2 separate regions of the Homo sapiens genome follow, and region 2 is linked to region 1. Evidence: fine-mapped expression QTL. A gene starts in region 1. The other region holds a variant in brackets. All regions are shown on one strand. Distances are from middle to middle.

Evidence for each region. PIP is the estimated chance that this variant, and not a neighbour inherited with it, causes the effect. A credible set is the group of variants that fine-mapping cannot tell apart.
Region 2: its variant is the best candidate, but not a certain one, in a credible set for the expression of PROZ in liver (GTEx, PIP 0.80).

The regions. Positions count from the first base shown.
Region 1 is chr13:113,156,223-113,160,612 of GRCh38, reverse strand. PROZ (protein Z, vitamin K dependent plasma glycoprotein) reads right to left here and starts at 1,965. Exons shown (of 8, transcript NM_003891.3): 1 at 1,883-1,965; 2 at 436-599. The coding sequence starts at 1,952. LOC124903216 (a long non-coding RNA gene) reads right to left here. Exons shown (of 4, transcript XR_007063880.1): 4 at 4,003-4,083. RefSeq lists enhancers at 751-1,328, 1,905-2,482.
Region 2 is chr13:113,202,669-113,207,058 of GRCh38, reverse strand. The region is part of intron 1 of PCID2 (PCI domain containing 2); the gene reads left to right. Among named protein-coding and RNA genes, the nearest start is that of PCID2, 3.8 kb to the left of the region's middle. The variant G/A (reference allele first, on the strand shown) is at 2,584.

The DNA.
Region 1 (4,390 bases):
GCACATGATATAGAAGTCACATCACCTTTTCGCTTTTTATAAACCGAGTTGAATTTTAAAGATATATACCTCTGTAGGGAGTGGGGACACTTAGTTTGGGGTAGGAGTATCTAAAATTAGGAGAATTATTCAGACTTGAAGCCTAGAAAGAAAATGTATGCTGGGTGTCTGATCAGTGTGTGGGCCTTGCCTGACCTGAAGAAATGAGTCCAGTGGGCTCTGAGCTGACTTCCAGCCCCACTCACTGCTGTAGGGAAAGGTGGATTAAGTCGATTCTCTAAATTGTTTCCTCATCTGTAAAACTGGGATTGTGTCAACCTCATCGGTAAGTAAATAGGCTAATTAATTAAGCTTAATCTCTGAGAAATGATGCTCCCTGGGCCAGCAGAAGTCTAAATAATGAGGAGGCCTGTGGTTTGTGGTGGGGGTACATACAGTGACTACTTCATTTTCAAACACTTCTCTTGCTTCTTCATAGACACAGATTTCTTCATAACATTCTTTTTCCAAGTTTCCCTCGAAGAGTTCTTCCAGAAGATAGGAGCCCGCACGCTTCCACCTCACCAGAACGTCGTTTGCTTTGGAGGCCGGGAGAAATACTACAGACGAGACAAGAAGGCAGGTGACTGGGAGCACCGAGGGCCCTGCTTTCCAGAGCTGCCTGGCTTCCTCCCCGGCCGGCCGCCAGCCCCAGCCCCGTCCGTCTCCACAGGCTCTCAGCCTGCGAGGGCCTCAGGGCCACCCCGCTACTCCCTCCCCCGAGGTAGGCAAGCACTTCATCCTCTGGGCGAATGGATCAGCCCCAGGATCAGTGCGGATACACTAAGGTTCTGCAGAGAGGCCACGGGCCTCAGTCAGGAAAGTGGAGGAGGGAGGGCTCCAACTGGGTTTTGGGTCTGAGTGCGAAGGAAGGCTGAGCTGGGGTCAAAGGTCCCCGTACTGAGAACTGGGGACCAAGAGCCATCAGCTCCTGTGCTGCCTCTGTGCGCAGCATTTAACATCTTGATAAAACACATAAAGAAGAAACTTATACATTGCAGCAGGCTCTGCGATTTCCAGGAGGAGAAGGCAAATGAGTTGACCCGCGGCAGTGGTCTCTGGAGCCTCTTCCCACCTGAGGGTCCCAAAGCATGTTCTCTCCCTCTCCGGGAGGGTCAAAGCCCAGGCCCTTCCCATCCTCCCTCCTTTTCTCTCGGTGCTGAGGGTTACAGCAGGGGGGGCTCAGCTAAGTCCGGCTACGGTAAGTGCTGGGCAGGGCAGGGCGGGGGGATCACCCTCTCAGGGTGGGAGACCATGGGGCCAGCGGGAGACCATGGGGCCAGCGGGGATGCTGGGTGTTTTGACTTGCAGCTTTCCTGGACGCCTGTGCAGGCAGAGTCAGAATGGAGTCCATGTCGTTCCTTCAGTGAAGTGGCTGGTGGTAGAAGGGTGGCAGGCAGGCAGGGTGGCTGCTCCCTGGCTATGTCTCCTGACTCAAGACTGGGCATTCCTGGCTGGCCTGGCCAAGGCTCTCTCTGCCCACATTGCAGTCTGGGCTCAGCCTGCCCCACCCCCTCCCCTCGTCCAATGCCCAACCCAGGCCTCCCCCCACTCCTCCCCCTTTCCCCCTCCCCTCTCCCCGGCCTTTCCCGGCTGAATCCCCTGCACACAGGCTTCTTTCCATTTGGGCATCTCTTGGGAGGACCCCAAGTGACACTATCATGTCCCAAATACTTGTCACCAAATGATAAAGATCCAAACAGCTTTTTCAGGGGAATTAAGACTAGTCTGGGCACTCAGGGCTCCTCTGGCTCCTGGAAAAAGCCTCATCTACAAATCCACCATGGACCGAGTCAAGAAAGACACAGCACAGGCACAACAGACAGGTAAGCCAGATGCCTACCTGAGGGCTCCACACGATGGAGGGCGAGGACCAGGACCAGGCCCTGGAGCAGTGGGACGCAGCCTGCCATTCCCACCCGGAGCGCTGGGACAGGGCTACAAACACAGCCAAAGTCCAGGCTGGGGGAGGTGCCGGCAGCAGGAGCCTCGGGGCACGACCTGTGCAGCTGTGTGCTTCCCTCCTGACGTTTTCTGTTTGAGGCCAGGCAGAGAAATGAACGGTGAAGGCTCAGAGGACCCTGGGAGATATTTAGGGAGACAGAGAACAGAAGGTAAAGGCAGCAGGTGCAAGGTGGAAGGTGGCACCCATGCCCGTGTGTGGTCAATGGAGGTGAGATAGGCCCTGGGGACACAGCACTGGGCGGGACAGACAAAGTCACATGCAGCTTACGTTCTAGGTGTGTGTGGAATACACAGAAAAGAACGAGGGAAAGAGACAGGAGGGAGTGAGGGAGGGAAAGCAGGAGGATGGAAAGAAGGAAGGGGAGAAAAGGAAGGGAGGGAGGGAGGAGGGAGAAAGCGGGGAAGGGCCAAATAGTGTCTGTCACTACAGCTCAGCACCATTGTAGCAGAGGCAGCATAGACAATCATGAATGAACACTTGGCTGTGTGCCAATAAAGCTTTATTTATAAGAGCTATTAAGGGGCCAGATTTGGCCCCAGGGTTGTCGTTTGCTGCTTTCAGATGTAGGCCCTGTGTATTAGTCCCTTCTTACACTGTTATGAAGAAATAGCCAAGACTGGGTAATTTAAGAAAAGAGGTTTAGTTGACTCCCAGTTCCACATGGCTGGGGAGGCCTCAGGAAACTTATAATTATGGCAGAAGGCACCTCTTCACAGGGTGGCAGCAGAGAGAATGACTGAAGCAGGGGAAATGCCAGATCCTTATAAAACCATCAAATCTCTTGAGACTCACTCACTATCCCAAGAATAGCATGGTGGAAACCACCCCCATGATTCAATTACCTCCCACCGGGTCCCTCCCAGGACACGTGGGGACTATGGGGATTACAATTCAAGATAAGATTTCGGTGGGGACACAGCCAAACCATATCAGCCCTTGAAGCCTGAGGTAAGAACCTGGTGTTTCATTTTCACTGTGTTGGGAAGATATTGGAGGGAACAGGAATTGACATGGAAAGATTTGTGCTCTGAAGGGATCACTGGGCTGCTGTGTGGAGAACAGAACATTCCAGAGAAGTCAAAAGGGAGGCTGCCGGCTAGTCCAGGAGGGGGTGAGGGTGCAGCCATGCAGCAGGAAGCACGTTTGCAGTCTGGATGCTTCAGGAAGGGAAAGCTGATGGGATTCATGATGAATTGTGTCGGGCAGCACGGCTCCAAGGTTTGGGCTGAGCGATTGGGAGGATGGCAGTGCGTGTGCTGAGACGGCCAAGCTCCAGGAGGGCAGAGGGAAGCGAGGTTTGGCAAATTTGAGGTGTCTGTGGGATGTCCAGGTGGAGACAGGAGTGGGCATCCGAGAAGCTGGGACTCACAGTGGAGATTCAGGTGGTAACAGATGAAATGACAGCATTGTCAGCATATAGATATTGTTCGATTGAATGACACTCAAAGGTGGCAAAACTCAATGAAAGGATTCTAAATACAATTTTGTTAAAGTGGGAACAGAAGAAAACTAAGAAGCTGACACCCTTGATTAAGAGGGCATGCCCGCAAATACACTGAAGTTGTGAAGTTTGCTTTAAAAAGCTGGGAAAAGAAAATAAAGTTTATCTTTAGTGAGTGAGTTAAAATAATTTGAAAGCCAGAAGTTGATTGTATAGGATAGCTCTTGGGTGAATTGCACCAGCCTGGCAATCTACGTGGCCTTCACTTAAGAAAAGGTGCCTTTTTTTGTGTGAAAATGTATTCCCACATGGAAATTTACATTAAAAATACTTCTGCTGGATAGTTTAAAAACCATCAATAGCTGCCTAAAAATGGAAAGGCAGACAGGGACATACACATTCGATCAATAAGTGTTAATTAAGCACATCCTATATGCCTGACATGGGTATCTGAGCTACAACCTCTTCCCTCATGGACCATTTTAGTCTGTTGGGGCTGCTGTAACAAAACACCTTAGAGTGGGTAATTTACGATAAACAGAAACGTAGTGCTCACAGTTCTGGAGGATGGGAAGTCCAAGATCAAGGCTCCAGTAGACTCAGTGTCTGGTGACGGCCCATGATTCATAGACGTGTCCTTGGATGGTGGAAGGGAGGAATGTGGGTGCTCCCTGGAGCCTCTTTTGGGAGGGCAGTCATCCATCCATGAAGGCAGAGTGCCTCCCAGAGGCCCCACCTCCTAGTACTATTGCACAGGGGGTTAGGTTTCAACGTGAGTTTTGGGGGATGGTTTGGCTCTGTGTCCCCAACCAAATCTCACCTTGAATTGTAATAATCCCCACAGGTCAAGGGCAGGACCAGGTGGAGGTGATTGAATCATGGAGGTGGTTCTTGTGATAGTGAGTGCATTCTCACAAGAGCTAATGATTTTATAAGGGGCTTCC
Region 2 (4,390 bases), 46 kb before region 1:
AGGGATTGGAGAGAGTCATTTTTCCAATTCAAGTCAGTTAAAGTGAGACTGATAAGCGAGCTTCTACTCTATGTGTGTAAACTGAAGTTTAAACAGACAGATTTGGGTTAAAGATACAAACCTGAGACTCCTTCGTAGTCACATGATGGGAAAGACTGAGAAGGGAAGGGGTGACCCAGGGAACAAGTAGAGAGAGTAGACAGGGGCTGGGCCCAGGATGGACTTCTATGGAGATGTGCATGCCTACATCTCCGCAAAGGGCAGTGTAGCCACTGGGGTGAGACAGCAAAAAGTCCGCTTCCTCCTAATTCTGATGGATAAAAATATTTCTGGTTGAACTGGCATGTTACCTAAGTTTTATGTATTAACAGATTCTTGAATATTTTAAGAAAATAGGTGCCTCTTCGATACAGAATGGCAACCGGTTATACATGGTAACACATGTTTGATTTGTTGTATAGGAACATAAGTGCCAATGTCACTGTATCTCTTTGGGAATAAAACCATCATTTGCACATTCATCAAAGCTAGGAAGTTGGGGGAAATCATTGACTCCTCCTTTAGTCTCAGCAAATAGTCCTTTACCTAATTGGATGTATCTCCGAAGTCTCTCAGATCCATCCCTTCTTTATCTGTTGCCACATGCTCCCCAGCCAGGACGCCCTGCTGCAGGTACTGGTTGATGGTTTCCTTTACTTTGCCCTTTCCAAGTGAGACACAGCAAAGAGACCATAGACTTTAAAGACAATAAGACTTCAGCCCAAATCCTGGCATTTTTACTAATTCTGGGACCATGACAAGTTATCTAACTTCTGTGACTCTCCATCTCTAAACAGGCTTCACATAAGTTGTGAGAATTAAAAAGACCATGAATTCACAGTAAATGCATTTACTTAGTAAATGATAGTTCTGGTATTTTATTGAAGAAGAGTTGAGCATCTGCCTCTGTTACTAAAACTTCATTGACTCTCTGTTTCCTCCAGGGAAAGTTCCAAATGCTTTAGCACATCATCTGGTCCATGTTTACCTGTTAACTTGGCATCACCAGTCTGAAGGTTTATTTCACTTATGCTGAATGCACCATTGCCCCACCGAAGTACTCATAACTTAAAATATACCATTTAACCATTTTAAAGTACACAATTAAGTACATTCACAATATTGCACAACCATCACCATTATCCAGAATTTTTTGTCACCCCAAATGGAAATGTCATAAGCATTAAGCAGTCACTCCCTGGTCCTCCCTCCCGAGCGCTTGTCAACCGCTAATGTGCTCTCTGTCTGTATGGATTTGCTGACTCTGGTGATTTCAGTATGTGGCTTTTGTGTGTCTTTCCCTTGCATCATGTTTTCAGGGTTCATCTGTGTTGGAACATGTGTCAGTGTGTCGTTCTTTTTTATGGCTAATGATATTCCATTGTATGGAGTATTTTGTTTATCCATTCATCAGTTGATGGACCACTTCAGTTGTTTCCTCTTTTTGGCTGTTGTGCTGCTGCTGTGAACATTCTTGCGCAGGTTTTGTATTCTTTTTGGCATATACCTAAGAGTGGAATTGCTGAGTCATATGGTAATTCTGTGTTTAACTTGTTAAAGAAATGCCAAAGCAGCTAGCTGCATCATTTTACATTTTCACCAGCAATGTATGAGGGTTGCAATTTCTTCACTTTCTTGTCAATGCTTGTTTTTTTCCATTCTTTTTATTATGGCCATCCTGCTGGGTGCGGAGTGGTATCTTCTTGTGGCACCCCATGATCTTTCTTGTCCCAAAGATTTTCTTCATTATGTTCCTTTTGCCAAGAACACCTCTCTTTTTTACAGGTGTAGTGAACATCTTTATTTAGGGAATCAGCTTTGAGTTAGATACTTTACTCCTTAATCTTCAGTAGTTCTTCATATTGTCTTTCAAGAGTTTATGGAATTGGAAAGTTTGACTATTCAGAAGTGACTTCAGAGGTTCATGACCTGTAATGATTTTGAATTTTTAAAAGAGTTATGAGTTCCAAGAGTAGATGGTGCCTCCTGTGGACCAGACTGGAGGGCGTGAGGGGCATGCAGCAACCACAAGGAAGTCTTCCTGGGGCCAGAGCCAGGGAGCATCCCCTGGTGAGCCAGGCCTGGGGGTGCCGCTCAGAAGGTGCTCACTTGGAGTCTGGTTGTGTGGTCCCATTGAGGGCTGAAGGCTCTGCAGCATGAGCTGTTAAGAGTTGGCCAGGTGGCTGGGCTGCTAGGGGTCCTGTGTCCACTGCGGCGCCAGTCGCACCTTTAGGGCTTGCAAGTACCGTCCGTTGCCATCCCTGCTTTTCCTCTTCACATCCCCAGTCTTCTCACAGTTTAGTCATTGAGGCAGGGGCATTGATAGGACCACCCCTGGGACACATTCATGCCTGCCAAGCAAGCTGGGGCCCTCCTTGGGCTCAAGGCCCTGTGGCACTGAGCCCTCCTCTGGTCAGGTCACCCGTGGGACACTGGGTGCAGCCCAGGTAGGTGTGGCCAAGCAGAGCCCAGGATGTGGCGACATCACCCTGCATATGTGCAGGGACCACCCTGGGAGGTCACAGGCAAAGGAGGGCTACCAGT[G/A]AGTGCCCCCAGCAGGGGTCTCCGCCTCTCCTTGGAGGGCCCCGGTGTCTGTACTCCAGGGTTTGATCCCTTCGTGACCACTGTGTCCCCAGTGTGTTTAGTCATTGAAGTATGCTTCCATTCCACAGTGCTTGCTCCAAGTCTGGGACTCTCAGCTTTCAGTCACTCATAGGTTCCTTCTGCAGAGAGCTCTGGAGGCCTTGGCAACATCAGAACATCATGCTCAAGTGTGACCTGTCACCAGAGTACTGATGTTAACCAGAACACTCCTCTTCTCAGGCTCCTGGGGCTGGGCCCAGTGCAAGGCCCTGGGTGGTGCGAGAGATCGCACAGTGCGGGGCCTGGAGTGCCTGGAACCATAAGCAGGGGTGGCTGTGGGGAACTCTTAGCTTGAACCTCCTGTTTGTGTGGAACCAAAGAGAGCACGGCTTGGCCAGCAGGCTCCAGAACCGCTTTCTAGCCAGAAGCCCCTTAGTTGAGCAAGGTTGGAGTCTGTTGGGGCTCCTGTGGCTAGGCCTGCCCACATGGCACAGGGAGGGCCACTTTGGAAGGCATATCCTCTCTGGGGCTAAACTGACTAATACTGGTTTTCTTGGGGGACTTGCAGACCAAGACCTGGGTGGGATCGGTTGTTTTGCCTTCCATCCCAGGGCCAACTACTGATGGGAGGGCAAACGGGGAAGACGCAGTGTGCCTGCCTGGCCAAGGCAGTTGCCACCCTCATCCTTGAGGGCGCTGTTCCATTGCACCTGGTCAGATGGTCTCGAGGGAGCCAGAGGAGGCCCCTTTGGAGCTGGGCACCAGTGAGTTCTTGCAGGGCGTGGGCAGGGGACACCGGAAAGCCTCCTGCAGAGGATGGGCAGATACCAGTGTTGTCTTCTTGGGGCCATCTTCAGCTTCTTGATGATGATTGGCAAATGCAGTGTTGTAAATTGCAAAATACTGATCTGTAGCATGGTGATTTTAAAGAGGAAACCTAACCCTTTCCCCTAAACAGCTGAGGATCTTAGTATCTGTCTGTCTACCTTTTAGATGAAATCCCTAAACCTGTGGCCAGGGCTATGAAGAGAAACTTAGTTTCCATAATACTTGGGCCCAAATCGTCTTGCACCCATTTGTGACTTTGAAAATGTCAGGAGCTAGGCTATGATGTGACGTTGAGCAGCAGCTTGTGACCTTGCATGGACTGGGGCAGGAGGGCTGCCTCTGAATGGCTGTAGTTTTCCTATGAAGGCAGAAAACCTGCAAGTCTTCAGATGGCTTCAGCTGAAGATAAAGTTAAGTTCCTGCTTACACCTCCAACCCAAATCCCATGGGACTCTCCCTTCTCCTGCTCTGTGCCAGTGCTGCTCTTTCTCACTGACGACTGTGGTCCCGGCGACACCGCCCTACCCACTGCACTCACAAGCAGTTCAGGATTAGGGCCCTAGTGCCACCAACAACATTCTACTCAGTGATGTTGAAATTCAGGATTTTTTTTGTTTTGTTTTTGGCAGTCTTTTTGTCCTTAGAATAAGGACAGTCAAATTCCACAAACTACTGTTTTCAAAGGTTACTCATATAGGTATGTATTTTCTATTTGTTTCAATTTTAAGGTTTGTCTTTCTATTTTATTTCTTGAATGGGGTTGTAAGTAACTTATATTTAAAGGTGTGCTCAGAAACTTTCCTTCTCTCTCTCACCTCATTCCACCCCCCTCTCTAGAAAGATAATCATTTGCATTAGATTCTGCCTTCTCCATCCTGTATTTCCTTTTGGGATGTACATGTGACACACACACAGACATAAACACACATATTTTTCTTGT